2 separate regions of the Homo sapiens genome follow, and region 1 is linked to region 2. Evidence: fine-mapped expression QTL. A gene starts in region 2. The other region holds a variant in brackets. All regions are shown on one strand. Distances are from middle to middle.

Region 1 (8,337 bases), 130 kb before region 2:
ACTCCAGCCTAGATGACAGAGTGAGACTCTGTCTCTAAATAAATAAATATAAAGTGATTACTATGGGAGGGTCAGGGGAGCAGCGGAGGGGGTCAGACTGCTTAGTGTGTATCATGTTCTATTGTTTGAGTCTTGAACTATGATAATGTATTACCTATTCAAATTTTTAAAGTCTAAAGGTACAAAAAGAAATGTTTTCTGAAACAGTAAGTCACCTGACATTGACCAGATAGTTCTAGAAGGCAGGGAATCCTTGCTGAGCCTCTGAATTCCTGTAAATACTCCTTAGATTTATAAGTGCCCCAGCCATATCATTTTCCTGTGAGTGAGTTTTGTTTTTTTCCTTAAAGGTTGCTTTTTAAAAAATACTTTACATACACATCTATTTTCCTCTATTAAATTCCCTAGGAGGGCCGGGCACAGTGGCTCACGCCTGTAATCCCAGCACTTTGGGAGGCTGAGGTGGGCAAATCACAAGGTCAAGAGTTCGAGACCAACCTGGCCAACATGGTGAAACGCCGTCTCTACTAAAAATACAAAAAATTAGCTGGGCATGTTGGTGGGCGCCTGTAATCCCAGCTACTTGGGAGGCTGAGGCAGGAGAATCGCTTGAACCCGGGAGGAGGAGGAGGTTACAGTGAGCCAAGATCATGCCACTGCACTCCAGCCTGGGTGGCAATGTGAGACTCCATCTCAAAAAAAAAAAAAAAAAAAAAAATTCCCTAGGAGACCTGTCCTAAAAGTAGGCTTAATTTGTTTCCAGTTTAAGACATTAACAATAATAATTGCACGTGTTTCCATAGAGCTGACCATGAACCAGACACTGTTCCAAGAATTTTACTTATATTAGCTCATTCAATCCTCACTACAGCTGTTTGGGGTAGGTTTAATATTACCACAATTTTGCCGATGAGGAAACTGAGGCCCAAAGAAGTTGCTCAAGGTCACTTTATCATTAAGTAGCAGAGTCAGGATTCAAACTCCAAACACCTGGCTGGAGGCCATGCTCTGAACCACTTACTCCACGGATCCCTGAGAAAACAACTATGTCCTTCTAACTGGAAACAAACGTAGGCCCTTGAAAAGCGTGTACTATTTTAAAACCACAATATTATGCAATAACAACCCAGGATTACTCAACTGTGGCACTGTTAATACTCGGAGTGGATAATTCTATGTTGTAGCCGACAGTGGTGTGCGTTGCCGGGTGCCTAGCAGCATTCCTGGCCTCTCCCCACAAGTACCGCACCCCCTCTGAGTTGTGGCTACCACAGATGTCTCTAGACATTTCCAAAATGTCCCCTGGGGGATGAAATCACCATAGATTGAGAACTACTGCAATAAGTCCAGCCTCTTAATATGTCTCCTAATTCTTTAATTTTAGAAGACCTGTTTAAAACAAATATATACCATTTTGAAGAAATATTTTTCTAAAGTTTGGTTTCTTATCCTTCTGTTAAGTTGAAGTAAACTTATGTATAACATTTTAATAAAAATCTGAACAGCAGTTATCTCAATGGTGGTAAACAGTGCTTTACAAATTAACTTACTTTCTTCTCTATACTGTGATTTATTTTTCAAAAATTTTTTGCCACGTTCTTGGAATCAGCAGAAAAAAAGTTATATTTTTAAAGTAGAAAAACAATACCAGCTTCTTTCCTGGAATCCAAAGCCTCTGAGACTACTTCCTGGCTGTCAGTATGGAGGTTTCTGGGACATTTCTCCTTTTAGCTAAGCCATGCCTTCTTCCTTCATGCTCCTCAGTTAGTTTACTTAGTGGAACTTAACAAGGATCTACTTATGTAAGAAGTTATTTTAGAAAGACAGCAGGATACTTGCTGAGAGATGCGTGCTGTGTCTGTGATCCTACCATTAGATCGTAACCTGAGCCAGTTGGAAAGTCCCAGCATTCTCGGATGGGTCCTGTCTAAGAGCCACTTTGCAGAACAAAGATCATCTTTCAGGATGAATGGGAGGGTTAGCCCCCACCTGACAAAACTCCAAAGCAGGAGAATGTTGAATTCATTCAACATTCATTTATGAATCTCATGTCCTGTTCCTCCTAGGGATACAGCAGTAAGCACAGCATAAAAGACCATTCTTAAGGAGTTCTTATCCTAGTGCATGGGCCAGACAGTTGAGAATTTGATTACATATGTTCCTAAACAGTTTTCTAATTATTTTGCGGATGTCTTGTCTCTTCAACTAAATTGAAAATCCTCATGGGTGAAAACCATGTCATACTTCTTTATGACATCCCAAATTGTTGGGCACACTGCTAAGCACATTAATAAGACACTCAGTACATACTTAACAGTTGTCAATGAATCCAGCAGAAAGAAACATGTTGCAGACAATGCAAAGAACATGAGAGAGACAGAGACAGACATAGAAAGGGGGTGGGGAAGAGGATACGTAGGAAACTTGTTAACAGTAGCTCGTCTAGAGTTTTAAGAACCTGGAAGAACAATCTGAAAGGAAATTAAGAAAATAATTCCATTTACAATAACCTCTGTTTTGGACTGAATGTCTGCACTCCCCTCAAATTCTTATGTTGAAACCCTAAACCCCGTGTTGCTGCATTTGTTGATGGGGCCTCTAAGGAAGTAACTAAGGTTAAATGGGGTCATAAGGGTGGGGCCCTGATCTGATAGAATTAGTGTCTTCATAATAGGAGACACCAGAGAGCTTGCCCTCTAGGGCACAGGAAGAAGGCAGCCAACTACAAGCCAGGAAGACAGCCCTCATCAGAAACCAACCACTGGCACCCTGATCTCTCACTTCTAGCCTACAGAACTGTGAGAAAATAAATTTGTTGTTTAAGCCATCCAGTCTGTGGTATTTTGTTATGGCAGCCCAAACAGACTAATGATAGTATCCAAAAGATAAAATACCTAGGAATACTTTTAACCAAGGAGGTGAAACATTTGAACACTGAAAACTACTAGACACTGCTGAAGGAAATTAAAGACCTAAATAAGTGGAAAGTCATCCATGTTCATGGATTAGGAGACTTAATATTGTTAAAACAGCAGTACTCCCCAAGGCAAACTACAAATTCAATGCATTCCCTTTCAAAATTCCATAGCCTTTTTGCAGAAATGGAAAACCTGATCCTAAAATTAATATGGAACTGCAAGGGGCCCTAAATAGCCAAAACAATATTAAAAAAGAAAACAATGTTGGAACATTCCCATTTTCTGATTTCAAAACTTACTGCAAAGCTACAGTAATCAAAACAGTAAGTTACTAGTGTAAGTGTAGACATATAGACCAATGGAATACAACTGAGAATTCAGAAATACACTAGAACATCTACAGTCAACTGATTTTTGACAAGGGTGCACAGACCATTCAATGGGGAAAGAAAGTCTCTTCAACAAATGGTACTGGGACCACTGGATAACTAAATGCAAAAGAATGAAGCTGGACCCCTACCTCACTCCATATACAAAAATTAATTCAAAATGGATCAACAATCTAAAAAGAAGAGCTAAAACTATAAAACTCTGAATAAAATATAAGGGTAAGTCTTCATGACCCTGGATATGTCAATGAATTCTTAGATTTGATAACAAATGCATGAGGAATTTTTTTTAAATAGATAAATAGTTCTTCATAAAAATTAAAAACTTTTGGCCAGGCATGGTGGCTCACACCTGTAATCCCAGCACTTTGGGAGGCCGAGGTGGGCAGATTACCTGAGGTCAGGAATTCAAGACTAGCCTGGCCAACATGGTGAAACCCCATCTCTACTAAAAATACAAAAATTAGGCAGGTGTGGTGGCGCATGCTTGTAGTCCCAGCTACTCGGGAGGCTGAGGCAGGAGAATCACTTGAACCCGGGAGGTGGAGGCTGCAGTGAGCTGAGATTGCACCAATACGCTCCAGCCTGAGCAACAGAGTAAAACTCCCATCTAAAAAAAAAAAAAAAAAAAAAAAAAAAAGACGGGGGCACGGTGGCTCACACCTGTAATCCCAGCACTTTGAGAGGCCGAAGTGGACAGATCACGATGTCAAGAGATCGAGACCATCCTGGCCAACATGGCAAAACCTCTTCTCTATTAAAAATACAAAAATTAGCTGGGTGTGGTGGCGTGTGCCTGTAGTCCCAGCTACCTGGGAGGCTGAAGCAGAAGAATTGCTTGAACCTGGGAGGCAGAGGTTGCAGTGCCAAGATCGCACTACTGCACTCCAGCCTGGCAATAGAACGAGACTCGGTCTCAAAAAAGAAATTTAAAACTTTTGTGCCTCGAAGGACATTATCAAGAATGTGAAAAGACAGCTTA[T/C]AGAACGAGAGAAAATATTTGTAAATCATATATCTGATAAGGGTTTAATATCCAGAGTATACAAAGAACTGTTACAACCCAACAACAAAAAGACAAATTCAGTTTAAAAATAAGCAAAGAATGGCTGGGCGTGGTGGTTCACGCCCATTATACCAGCACTTTGGGAGGCCAAGGCAGGCAGATCACTCGAGTCCAGGAGTTTGAGACCAGCAATTCAAGACCAGCCTGGCCAATATGGCAAAACCCTGTCTCTACTAAAAATACAAAAATTAGCCAGGCGTGATGGCGCACACTTGTAGTCCCAGCTACTTGGGAGGCTGAGGCATGAGAATCACTTTAACCCAAGAGGCAGAGGTTGCGGTGAGCCGAGATCAAACCACTGCACTCCAGCCTGAGTGACAGAATGAGACTCTGCCTCAAAATAAATAAATTAATTAATTAAATAAGCAAAGAACTTGAATAGACATTTCTCCAATGAAGATATGCAAATGGCCTATAATCACAAGAAAAGATGTTCAACATCATTTGTCATTAAGGAAATGCAAACCAAAGCCACTGTTAACCACAAGAAAAGATGTTCAACATCATTTGTCATTAAGGAAATGCAAACCAAAGCCACTGTTAACCACTAGAATGGCTTAAAAAGAGAGAAAAAAAGAAAATAACAGTATCAGTTCCTAGATCCTAGATAAGGGAGCAGAGGCTGGGTTTATTCTTATTTATTTGCCCTCCGAAGAAAACATCGGCTGTCTCTCTTTTCTACAGGAAATGGAGTACTATTTTTCTTCCAGCAACAAACTCGTAGTAAGCAGCCTTCTGGAAGAGTAAACAGAAATGTGAGTGCTTCCTCACTTTTGACAAGCTGCTAGAACAACGTTCCAAAAAGCAGCACAAACTCATGCATCCTGAGAATCAAAGCTCTTTGAATGAGCAAGAAATAGTAAAGACCTTATAGGAAGTAAATAAATAATTAGCAGATGGAAAAAGCATGGAGTAACAACGCAAGTAGTTCTGTTTCTTCACATCTTAACCTAGTCTTTTTTTTTTTTAATTTTCTTTTTAATTCTCAGCAAGGCAAGTTACTTCTATGGAGGGTGCACCCTTACAGATGGAGCAATGGTGAGCGCACACTTGGACAAGGGAGGGGAAGGGGTTCTTATCCGTGACGCACGTGGCCCCTGCTGCTGTGTCGTTCCCCTATTGGCTAGGGCTAGGCCGCACGGGCTAAACTAATTCCGATTGTTCTTAGCCTAGTCTTAAATAAGAGGAAACAAATAAGTGAACAAATGTCATTAAAGCAACTAGTTGATTATTTGGGGAGAAAGTATAGTTAGAACCCACATCCGTGGTCATTGCTGGCCTAAAGAGTGCCTTAAATAGGAATTAAAAAAAAAAAAAAAAGCCTGCTAGCAGCTGCAGCCCCAGCCAAAGCCCAGGGCCTGGCAAGTCAAATGCAGGCTCCATTCCTGCTCCTCATGTGACCCCTTGGTCAGGCACCTGCCTTGTGCACCTCACACCATACACAGAAACTAATCCCAGGTGGGATAAAGATTTTAAAAGAAACTACAAAAATACAAGAAGAAAATATGTATGAATACACAATTCAAAAACTCGTTAGAAAAATAGACATAAAAACAGAAATAGGGAATTTACAAAAAAAGAAATATAAATAGTATATCTATGCAGAAAATAGGTCCAATCTTACAAATAAGAACATGCAGAATATATATCATGAAGATATACCACTTTCAACTATGATATTTGCAGAGACTGTTTTTGCAAATATCATAGTTGAAAATGGTATGTCTTTGTGATATATATTCTGCATGTACTTATTTGCAAAAAATAATTGTTTTTGTTTTTTGGGTTTTTTTTGAGATGGAGTCTCACTCTGTTGCTCAGGCTGGAGTGCAGTGGCACCATGTCAGCTCACTGCAACCTCCACTTCCCAGGTTGAAGCGATTCTCCTGCCTCAGCCTCCTGAGTAGCTGGGATTACAGGTGTGCACCATCATGCCTGGCTAATTTTTTTGTATTTTAATAGAGACAGGGTTTCACCATGTTGGCCAGGCTGGTCTCGAACTCCTGACCTCACGTGATCCACTCACCTCGGCCTCCCAAAGTGCTGATATTACAAACAACGTGAGCCACCACATGTGGCCCTGTTTTTGTTTTTTGGACTGCCCTTTGTCATGCAAAACTATTTTCTTTGTAACTTTTCTGGAAGACAATTTGGCAGGTGCTACATATCAAAGATCCGAACAAAATCCTTTATCACAATGGTTCCATTTTAGGAGTTTTATTCTAAGAAAATAATTGAGAATGTACACAAACATTTAGTGCTAGATAGATTAATGTTAATCAAAGCTTTATACATAAAAAATCTAAAAGTATACCAACAGGGTCCAGTAAATTCTGATGTAGCCATCCAATGAAATGCTTTTCAGCCATTAAAAATTGTTATATAAGTGTGTTTATTGAAAAAGATATTCATATTTACTTTTCTGTAAAATGGCAAGTTACAAAAGAGAGCATATGGTATGCTTTTATTTTAAAAAACATATATATGTAGATGACATATGGGGAAAACAGATAATGCTTTCCCCATATGCTTATAACAACATATGGGTGTATTTATGTATTCATTTCACAAGCGCTTATTAAGAACCTATGGGTATAAGGCATTGTGCTATGTGATGGGTGTTGGGATTATGGAAGATTTAGATTTTCTTCTTTTTGTTTCTTTATATTTTCTCATTTCTCTAAAATATGCATACACTACTTCTGCAAGTTATTTCAATTCTAAATGGCATTTTCTATTAAATGTGGTATATAGCCACAAAATTAGCATGTAATCGTAACTCATATTTATGTGATTTTTTTAAAGGTAATTTTTATAGGAAAAGAAAGTGCTTGTCTCATGGTCATGTGTTTTTATTTATTTGTTTATTTATTTTTATTTTTTTGTGAGCCACCACACAAAATAACACTGGCTGACTTGGAGTGTCTTATCTTTATTTCTTCTACCAGGCTGCGTTACTTTGCCATAGCACCGTTAAGACCTTCCATATAAACAAAGGCTTGGACTCAGCCTTCCCTGAGCCTTGAAGACTGATTGCCCTGTGATCCTCCTGGAACACCGAAGAATGGGAGGCCCCTCCCACTCTTCACTGGCCTCCCCATCTTCCTCAGAGGTGTCCCAAGACAGCTTCTCATCACCTCTCAGGTTCTGAGATATGGACTTTCTGCCTTATTCTCCCTCAGAAAAGAGTCGCAGAACATAAAACCCCTTGGCTGCGGTCTAGCAGGAGTTTCTCAGCAATGGAGGTACCCCACAACTTGCATTGCAGTCATCTGTCTCCTTGTGTTTTGGCAAGATCTTACCCCCGTCAAGATGAACAGGACTAGGGCAGAAACCCAAGTCCCTCCTTCTCTAAGGAGGATCAGAGGCTTTATGCACTGATCAAGGTGTGCTGGGGACTTGATGGCAACCACAGTTGTCGAACCTGTTCAGCCTTTTCCGACACTGGGCACAAGTCATTGGGGCACCGAGAAATACCCATGGTTATGGTCAAAAAATTACTTTAACTGGATTTGGAAGAAACTCTCAGATTGGACAGTGGACTGATGTAATTTTGTGGATATATTAATAAGGATTCTCCAGAAAAAAAAAAGAAACAATAGGATGTATGTATATAGGGAAAGATTTATTTTACAGAATTGGCTCACATGATTATGGAGGTTGGTGTGAGGTTACCCGAGAGAAAGGAAAAATAGACTCAAAGTCAGGCAAGCAAGTTTTTGTTAACCTGCCGGCTGCCCCCTTAACAGTCAGAGAGGAAGCAGCCCCAAACTTACAGAAGGAGGGGTTTATATTGGGGAGGGGAGTTTGAGGCAGTTCTTTGGTATGGCCGCATCCCGAGGTTGTTTGCTGGTTAATTTTGCCACATATCACCGTGTGACGTTTATGGTAGCAGCTAGATGAACAGGAACTTACAGGAGGGTGTAGGTAAAGTTTGTTTATGCTTCCCATGACCTCCCCCTGTGCC
Region 2 (8,337 bases):
GAGACTCTGTCTCAAAAAAAAAAAAAGAAAAAAAAACTGTGTCTCAAAAAAAAAAAAAAAGCGTGTAGCACCTTTCCTTTCTCTATCTTCCTCCTGGTCCACCACGTAAGACATGCCTGTTTCCCCTTTGCTTTCCGTCATGATTGTAAGTTTCCTGAGGCTTCCCCAGCCATCCTTCCTGTACAGGCTATGGAGCTGTGAGCCAATTAAACCTCTTTTCTTTATAAAATACCCAGTCTCAGGTGGTTCTGTATAGCAATGCGAGAACAGAATAACACAGCCATTAATTCAGTAACTGCAAAGTCCCGCCTCAGCTCTGGAAAAGGATTTGGAAAAAGGAACAGAGATAGAGGGAGACAGATTTCTAATGTAAAAGTCATCTCCCTTTCAATATTCATTACCTTAAAGCAGGGACTGATGGTTGAGGGCCAGCGCACAGGGTCCTTGAGAATGAGGCTGACCAGCTGAAAGATGCTTGTAGCATAGAAGGGAGGGGTGCCTACTGCCAGTTCATATAGTATGCAGCCAACAGACCAGAGGTCCGCTGTGTGGTCGTATGGTCGCTCCTCCACCAGCTCTGGAGACATATAGAGTGGTGTGCCTTTGATGGATGTCAGCACCATTGTATTGGTGCTCATAGCCCGGGCAAATCTGCAGAAGATAATGGGATGGAAATGGAAAGGGAAAAGATATTCTAAACCTGGTCACTACTACCTAACATAGAGATATCCCAAACCGGAGCAGAGGGAGCACCTTTGATTAGGTTCCAGAAGACCCAGCAGCAGTCCCAGCCTCTAGCTCCGGTTCTAAAATGAGGCCCAAATAAGTCAAGAGTATGGTCTAAGATTCCCTGTGGGGCCAGGCTCAGTGGCTCATGCCTGTAATCCCAGCACTTTGGGAGGCCGAGGTGGGCAGATCACCTGAGGTCAGGAGTTCGAGACCAGCCTGACCAACATGGAGAAACCCCATCTCTACTAAAAATATAAAATTAGCCAGGCATGGTGGCACATGCCTGTAATCCCAGCTACTCTGGAGGCTGAGGCAGTAGAATTGCTTGAATCCGGGAGGCAGAGGTTGTGGTGAGTGGAGATCGCACCATTGCACTTCAGCCTGGGTAACAAGAGTGAAACTCCATCTCAAAAAAAAAAAAAAAAAAAAAGATTCCGTGTGGAACTGGAAGCTTAGATGGATGCTCAGAATCTTTACCCAAAGTCACAGAGCTTGATGCCACCACCCTTGGCGAGGAGGATGTTCTGAGGCTTCATATCTCGGTGTAGGATGCGGTGGGAATGCAGATAGTACAGGGCTGACACCAACTGGGCAGCAATGGCCTGAACCTAGAAATTAAAGAGGTGGAAGAAAGAAAAAAAAGGTTAGAAACAGCAGCTGGCTGACAAGCCCAAAAATTTCTCTTAATATTACTGCTAATCTTTTCTTCCTTCCCTTTCTTGCAGAGCTTCACACTATTCTTTCTTAGTTATTGTTCCCCTTGTTTAATCACTCTTTCATTTGCTCATTCATTCATTCAAGAAAAATTTATTGAATCTCATTTACTATCTGCTTGACCATGGGCAAACTAAGGTGACAATCTATATAATAACACCATCTACATGGAGGATTATTGTGAGGACTGAGTTAAAGCATGCAAAATAATACTCAGAATGGTGCCTGGCACATAGTAAATATTCAATACACATTACCTGTTATTAAATAAGACAAAATGCCTTTTTTCAAGAAAAGTAGTCAGACAAACAAACAAGACAGATAAAACAAATATGGTGGTCGGGCGTGGTGGCTCACACCTGTAATACCAGCACTTTGGGAGGCTGAGGCGGGCAGATCACCTGAGGCCAGCAGTTCGAGACCAGCCTGGCCAGCATGGTGAAACCCCATCTCTACTAAAAGTACAAAATTAGCTAGGCATGGTGGCGCATGCTATAATCCTGGTTACTGGGGAGGCTGAGGCACGAGAATTGCTTGAACCTGGAAGGCGGAGTTTGCTGTGAGCCAAGATTGTGCCACTGCACTCCAGCCTGGGCAACAAAGCGAGACTCTGTCTCAAAAAATAAAATTCAATTAAAAATAAAATAATTTCAAAAATATGATTACTTACAAATAGTGGTGAGTGCTCAGAAGGAAAGAGAATGCTGCAATAATGAATCCCAGGGGGGGCCTACTTGCTTGGGTACAGACAAACGCCTAGAATAAATGTGGCTGGAGGATATGTGCAACAAAATCCCACTGCTAACCACTACGTCCTGGTGCCAAATCCTGACTCCCCACAACCTTTATTCTTACTGCCCTCTTTCTGGTACCATTACACTGGCCCTTCTTCCCTAAAGGTATCTAATAACAATAATGTTAATAATAGCTAACTATTCAAACACATTACATGACTTAACACTCTTCATCATAGACTTATCAGGCAAACATGATTATTATCTCCATTTTACAAATTAGGAAACTAAGCACAAAGAAATTAAAGTAACTTGTCCAATGAGACCCAGCTAGGAAGGAGCAGAGCCAAGCTTCCTGCTCAGATATTTTGACTCCAACGTTTACATAATTTACTCCCACACTACACTGCCTCTATATACCTAGACTCTTATATTCTTCTCAGAAGTCTTTGAAATGGAGACTCTCAGTGTCCTTAGCTTGCTCTACCAGTTCTCTAACCTGGAGAGAGGTCGGAGGTGGGGAGAAGTTGAAGGCAGAAAGCATACCTGGTCTTCAGGAAGTTTTCCGTCATCTTCTAGGATCTGAAAGAGCTCTCCCTCAGCATAGTCTGTCACCACCACCACCTACAGAGAGAAGGCAGTGGCACTGATGGCTCCAGATTCATGCATTCTGAGGTTGGGAAATTCCTGGAACCCTTGTGCTTGGGGAGACAGGGCCCAAAACTGTCAAAGCACACCTCTTTATCAGTTTCAAAGCTGTCAAGCATATGCACAATGTTGGGATGCCGCAGACCCCGCATTATTTCAATCTCTCGTTGCAAATTCCTCAGCTCCTTCTCTGAGCGCCCCAATTTTGGGATGAACTTCAGGGCCACGACCTGTCAGTGGTAAGGTGAAAAGTTAACGCCTAATCACACTACTGAAAAGATCTAGAATTTCAGCCTTAATCTCAGAGCTCCAGAAGTCAGATTTTAGAGTGTTTGAGTAACTCTTATTATTTCTGTTAGTCTCCCGCTTCCATTTTCTCCATGGTACCCTGGCCTTATCCAGGCTTTCCCCATTCCTCATCCCAGGAGGAAACAGCATCTGCAAAACATTTCCCCTTCTGGAAGAAGTGTTCTGATTTGACCAGCACTCAAGATGAGATTTAGGAGAAAGGAAAGGAAAAAAAAAATGAAGAGGAAATAATAGAGTTCAAGTGGTTTACCTCTTATTACATGGTGTGCTAGAGACTAATAATATTTGTTGTTTACTAACAGCCAGGCACTGTACTAAGTGATTTAATGTGAAAACATATTTAATCCTCAAACTCCATCAATCAGTTGCTGTTCTTATCCCCATTCTAGAGATAAGGAAATTGAGACATAGGGAAGTTAAGTAATTTGTCCATAATTCTAGGGCTAGAAAGCGGTGGAGATGGAATTTGCACCCAAATAATCCAACTTCAAAGCTTATACTCCATAAGAAGTATGAGGGAGTCAGTACCTTAGGAATACAAACTGGTATAAATACATTCCTTCTAGATCCATTTTCCACTGGAGTTGGGGGTACCAAATCCCACCCAAAAGGTATCCCTCTTTGTGCAACACCTGAGCACTGTATTTTCTTCGACCCTTGTACACCCTCCCAAAAGAGCCTTCTCCAATCATCTCCAACACGTGGTACTTTTCCATGACAGAGGTTTCAGGATCTCTTAGAAGGAAGAAAGTAGAGACGGTGAAGAGCTATAGATCCAGGGACAGTTCCACAACATCTGGGACGCCTAGTTGGGGCACGGGAAAGGAAAAATGTTAGCCACCTTGCCTTTTCCTCTTTTTCACAATAAAGCCTCAAAAAACATGGGAGGGTGGAATGCATGCAAAGATGATGCGCTCTTGGAACAAACAGAGCTTCTCTTTGTAGTTCCTCCCCACTTTCATCCTCCTGTCCCCAACCCGGCCCCATGCCCAACTAACACCTGGTTCCCCTTCTCCCTCACCCAGCCTGGCTCACTCGACCCTACTCTTTCAACCTAGCCTCGCCCAACCAACCCTGCTCCTTTGAGTCTCCCCCAAGTTCCTGCCACTCCCAGACTCCTCAGCACCCGCTCTCAGACCCCCTGGCCCGTGCGCTTCGCAGGCCAGAGCCCCTCTCTCACCCCCAGCCTAGGAGCTCCAAGCTCCTCAGGCCAAGGGACGGATTCCCTGGCGTTTAGCCCCATCTCTTCTGGCTGCCTGCATACGTTGCCTGACTTATAATTCTTCTCCACCCGCCTCTCCCTCCGGTCTCTTTCGGCTCCCTTTCTTACAATTTTACTCGCTAGAACTGGTGAGAAGTTCAGAGGACAAAGGCGCTCAGAGGTGTGGAATGGACGGCGGACCACACATGGGCACTTCCTGGGACACATCCGAACTGCCTCAGGGCCATCAGGCCCGGCTAAGGACCCGGAGTCTGCGGTTGCCTAGAAACGACGCTAGCTGCCCACCCCTCTTAGTTTTCCGCCTCCGACTTCCCTAAGGGCATTTCCGGTTCCGGCTGCGGGCCGGTGAAGATATGGCGGCGTCTGCGTCTGCAGCTGCAGGGGAGGAGGACTGGTAACTTTGGGGGCATGGGCTTTGGCTGACAGCCTGGATCTAGTCCAGAGGCCTAGCAGCTGTCGCAGACGGTCCGTACGGCGGGCGTGTGGGGTGGAGCGAGGGATGAGGGATGGCAGAGATGCTGACATCTCTGGGAAAGCTGGACTGGGGAACGGGAGGGTGGAGGGGCGCTGATCTGAGTGAGAGGAGAACGGGTCGGCGCCCGCCAGGCCAGTTCAGGCCTCGCCGCATCCGGTTCGATCCCTTTTCCTCCAGCTTCACGCCATCCCTTTCTCTCCTCCTCAAATGAATTTTCTCAGGGGCTTTGGGGGATGCCTGCCCATCAGACCTCCCCATCTCCCTTTCTCCTCTCAGAACCAGTGCCCTCCAGTTCCGGCCCCCTTTCCCCTTGGATCAGCCTTTTTCCGCCGACGCTTTCCTCAGCCTTCTCTCTCTCACACAGCACTAGTGAGGACTATTGTATGAATAAAGCTTTACACTTCATATAAAGTCCCTCTAGTCCTTCTCTCAAGCATTCTTAACCAAAGACTAGAACATGGAAGGACTCTGGGATTTGGAAGTAGGATCAATGTGGGTTAACTCCACATTTTATTAGCTGTGTGATGCTGAACAGGCCATCTAGCTTCTGTGAGTCAGTGTCCTCAGCTGTAAAAAAAAAAAGTGGGTGTGGCATTTACCTCAGAATAGTTGAGAGGATCACGACGGATTTGTAATATACTTAAGTCTGTTTTTTGTTTTGTTTTGTTTTGTTTTTTGAGACAGAGTCTCACTCTCGCCCACGCTGGAGTGCGGTGGTGCGATTACGGCTCACTGCAGCCTCGACCTCCCCAGGCTCAGGTGATCCTTCTGCCTCAGCCTTCCGAGTAGCTGAGACTACAGGTGTGTGCCACCATGCCTGGCTAATTTTTGTATTTTTTGTAGAGACGGAGTTTTGCCATGTTGGCCAGACTGGTCTTGAACCCCTGGGTTCAAGTGATCCTCCCACCTCAGCCTCCCAAGGTGCTGGAATTACAGGCGTGAGCCACCACACCCGGCCTCCTTTTCATTAATAACTGAGGTGCAGGCACCTGGGAAGACTAGATGAGTCCCAAAGAAGTAAAGTGATTTGCCAAAAGATAGAAAATTATGAATAGAAATCCATATCTGTCTGACTCCACACCTTAGATTCTTTGTACTAGGACATTCTTCAGTCCCCACTCCCCCAATTTTTTTTTTTTTTTTTTTTTTTTTTGAGACGGAGTCTTGCTCTGTCGCCCAGGCTGGAGTGCAGTGGCGCAATCTCGGTTCACTGCAAGCTCCGCCTCCCGGGTTCATGCCATTCTCCTGCCTCAGCCTCCCGAGTAGCTGGGACTACAGGCGCCCGCCACCACACCCAGCTAATTTTTTGTGATTTTTAGTAGAGACGGGGTTTCACCCTGTTAGCCAGGATGGTCTCTATCTCCTGACTTCATGATCCACCCGCCTCAGCCTCCCAAAGTGCTGGGATTACAGGCCTGAGCCACCGCGCCCGGCCCCCCTCCCCCATTTTGTTGTCACCACCTTACCACCATCCCATCCAGGACCCATATAACTAGGGTGGGCGAAGTATTGAAGGGCCACTTGACTGAGGCTACACCTCAATGTTACATTGGTTCAGGGAGCCCAGCTAGTACTGGCCGTTATTAAGAGTATCTAGACTACTGGTTTTCAAAGTGTTCAGGGAAACTTCTTTTTTTTTTTTTTTTTTAAGAGACAGAGTCTTACTTTGTCACCCAGGCTGGAGTACAGTGGCAAGATCATGGCTCACTACAGCCTCGACCTCCTGGGCTCCCGTGATTCTTCTGCCTCAGTCTCCCAAGTAGCTGGGACCACCGTGTCCAGTTAATTTTTTATTTTTTGTAGAGATAGTGTCTCGCTTTGTTGCCCAGGCTGGTCTCGAACTCCTGGCCTCAAGTGATCCTCCCACCTCAGCCTCCCAAAGCGCTGGGATAACTTACAGTTTACCTGTTCAGGGGAACTTTTAAGATTCAGGGGAGACACCTTGAGCCATGGAGACAGCAACAATGAGTGCAGCAGCCTGTAGTACTGTGAGACTCCCACTCCCATGTCAGCCAGAACTACACTGTTATCTGTGAGGTGTGAAGCTTTATATTTTATATTTTGAAGTTTCTGCCTAAGACTTAACAACACTGACATAGGTCGTGCTGGGGCAGCCTTACTCTTAGAATGAAGAGGGAGCAGTGTGAGAAAGCAAAGTGTGCATTTTTCCATGTATCACTTGGTAGAGCTGTAGACACAAACTGATCACTCAGCTTCAATTTCATTACAACTGCTGTTTCTATGCTTAAGTATGTGTGTCCCTTGATTTACATCAGAACCATGGATCCTAACCTCAACAGGCTGATCTAGATCAACCAGACAGCCAGGTCATAAATACATCCAGAGTACTCTATTACCTCCTTCCTTCCCTCTTTCCTTCTAAGGGAGAAGGTTATATACAGACAGGAAAAAAAGAGGACGTAGACTAGCTACGATAGCCCAGATACTATTAGGTACTTTATGTAAACAAATCACCTTTTATCCTCACAATAACCCTAGAGAGTAGGTGTTATTATCTATATGTGACAGACAGGATAACTTAAGCTTACAGAGAGGTCACGTCCCAGATTGCATAGCTTGTAAGTGATTGGTACCTGTTAACTAACTCCGAGGCTGCTGGCTCTTCCATTACAACACAGCCTTTATACCACCCTAAATATGTTGTGTTGAGGTTGCTATCTCCTTTAAGAAGGCTTAGGGTGACTGGTGTTAAAACTGTATGTAGACAGTAGCCAAGGCACTGGGATCCACACTGGACAGTGACGTAGGGAAAGGTTGGAGTAATATTGGTAACGTTAATGCTAATGAATGAGTGCCATATCTCTAGACCAGAGATTCAGCCACTAAGGGGAATGAAACTTAAACAGGGAGTCAGGAAACCTGGCTCTGGGCCTAGTTCTACCTATGTTAAGCCTTGGTTAGTCATTTTACTTCTCTAGAATCCACTTCTTCATCTGTTGGCAGAAATGATGCCTAAAATTCTGATTTCCATGCCTTCTATTTGGCCAGTTGACAACTTAAGGTAACATATTCCTTGTTTTTAAGGAGTTTAGCAGGAGAATGCATTCTGGTAGATTGCCATTTTTCTACAAAGCCTGCCTTTATTGGCCTTAGCAGGCTTCCACAGGGAGAGCTGTAATGGTAAGTTAGTCTACTCCTGTCTCTCTAGGGTCCTTCCCTCTGAAGTTGAAGTATTGGAGTCCATCTATCTAGATGAACTACAGGTGATTAAAGGAAATGGCAGGTATGTATTCAACCAGTGGTGGGCAGGAGTCCCCCTAGTAATGAGGAGAGGTTCTATGCTGAATTTGGGTCTTAAGACATTGTGAGCCTTGATTCAGAGATAATATTTCTCTTGTGTAGACAAAAGCTATTCCTTTAATCCTACCCCAAAAGAAAGAGTCCAATGTGTACTTCCTTTGCCCACTTCACTGTCTCAGCCCCATCCTCCCCAGCCCCCAAGCCCCTACCCAGTCACATCTGCGTGTCCACTTGATCCACCTGCA

What was found. PIP is the estimated chance that this variant, and not a neighbour inherited with it, causes the effect. A credible set is the group of variants that fine-mapping cannot tell apart.
Region 1: its variant is the best candidate, but not a certain one, in a credible set for the expression of STK36 in whole blood (TOPMed, PIP 0.72).

What each region holds. Positions count from the first base shown.
Region 1 is chr2:218,799,333-218,807,669 of GRCh38, reverse strand. The region is part of intron 1 of CYP27A1 (cytochrome P450 family 27 subfamily A member 1); the gene reads right to left. Among named protein-coding and RNA genes, the nearest start is that of MIR9500, 20 kb to the left of the region's middle. The variant T/C (reference allele first, on the strand shown) is at 4,290.
Region 2 is chr2:218,668,343-218,676,679 of GRCh38, reverse strand. It overlaps STK36 (serine/threonine kinase 36), which reads right to left and starts at 4,594. Exons shown (of 27, transcript NM_015690.5): 1 at 4,465-4,594; 2 at 3,767-3,939; 3 at 2,915-3,055; 4 at 2,724-2,801; 5 at 1,207-1,337; 6 at 402-651. The coding sequence starts at 3,850. It overlaps RNF25 (ring finger protein 25), which reads left to right and starts at 4,678. Exons shown (of 10, transcript NM_022453.3): 1 at 4,678-4,750; 2 at 8,001-8,075. The coding sequence starts at 4,710. RefSeq lists an enhancer at 4,674-4,773.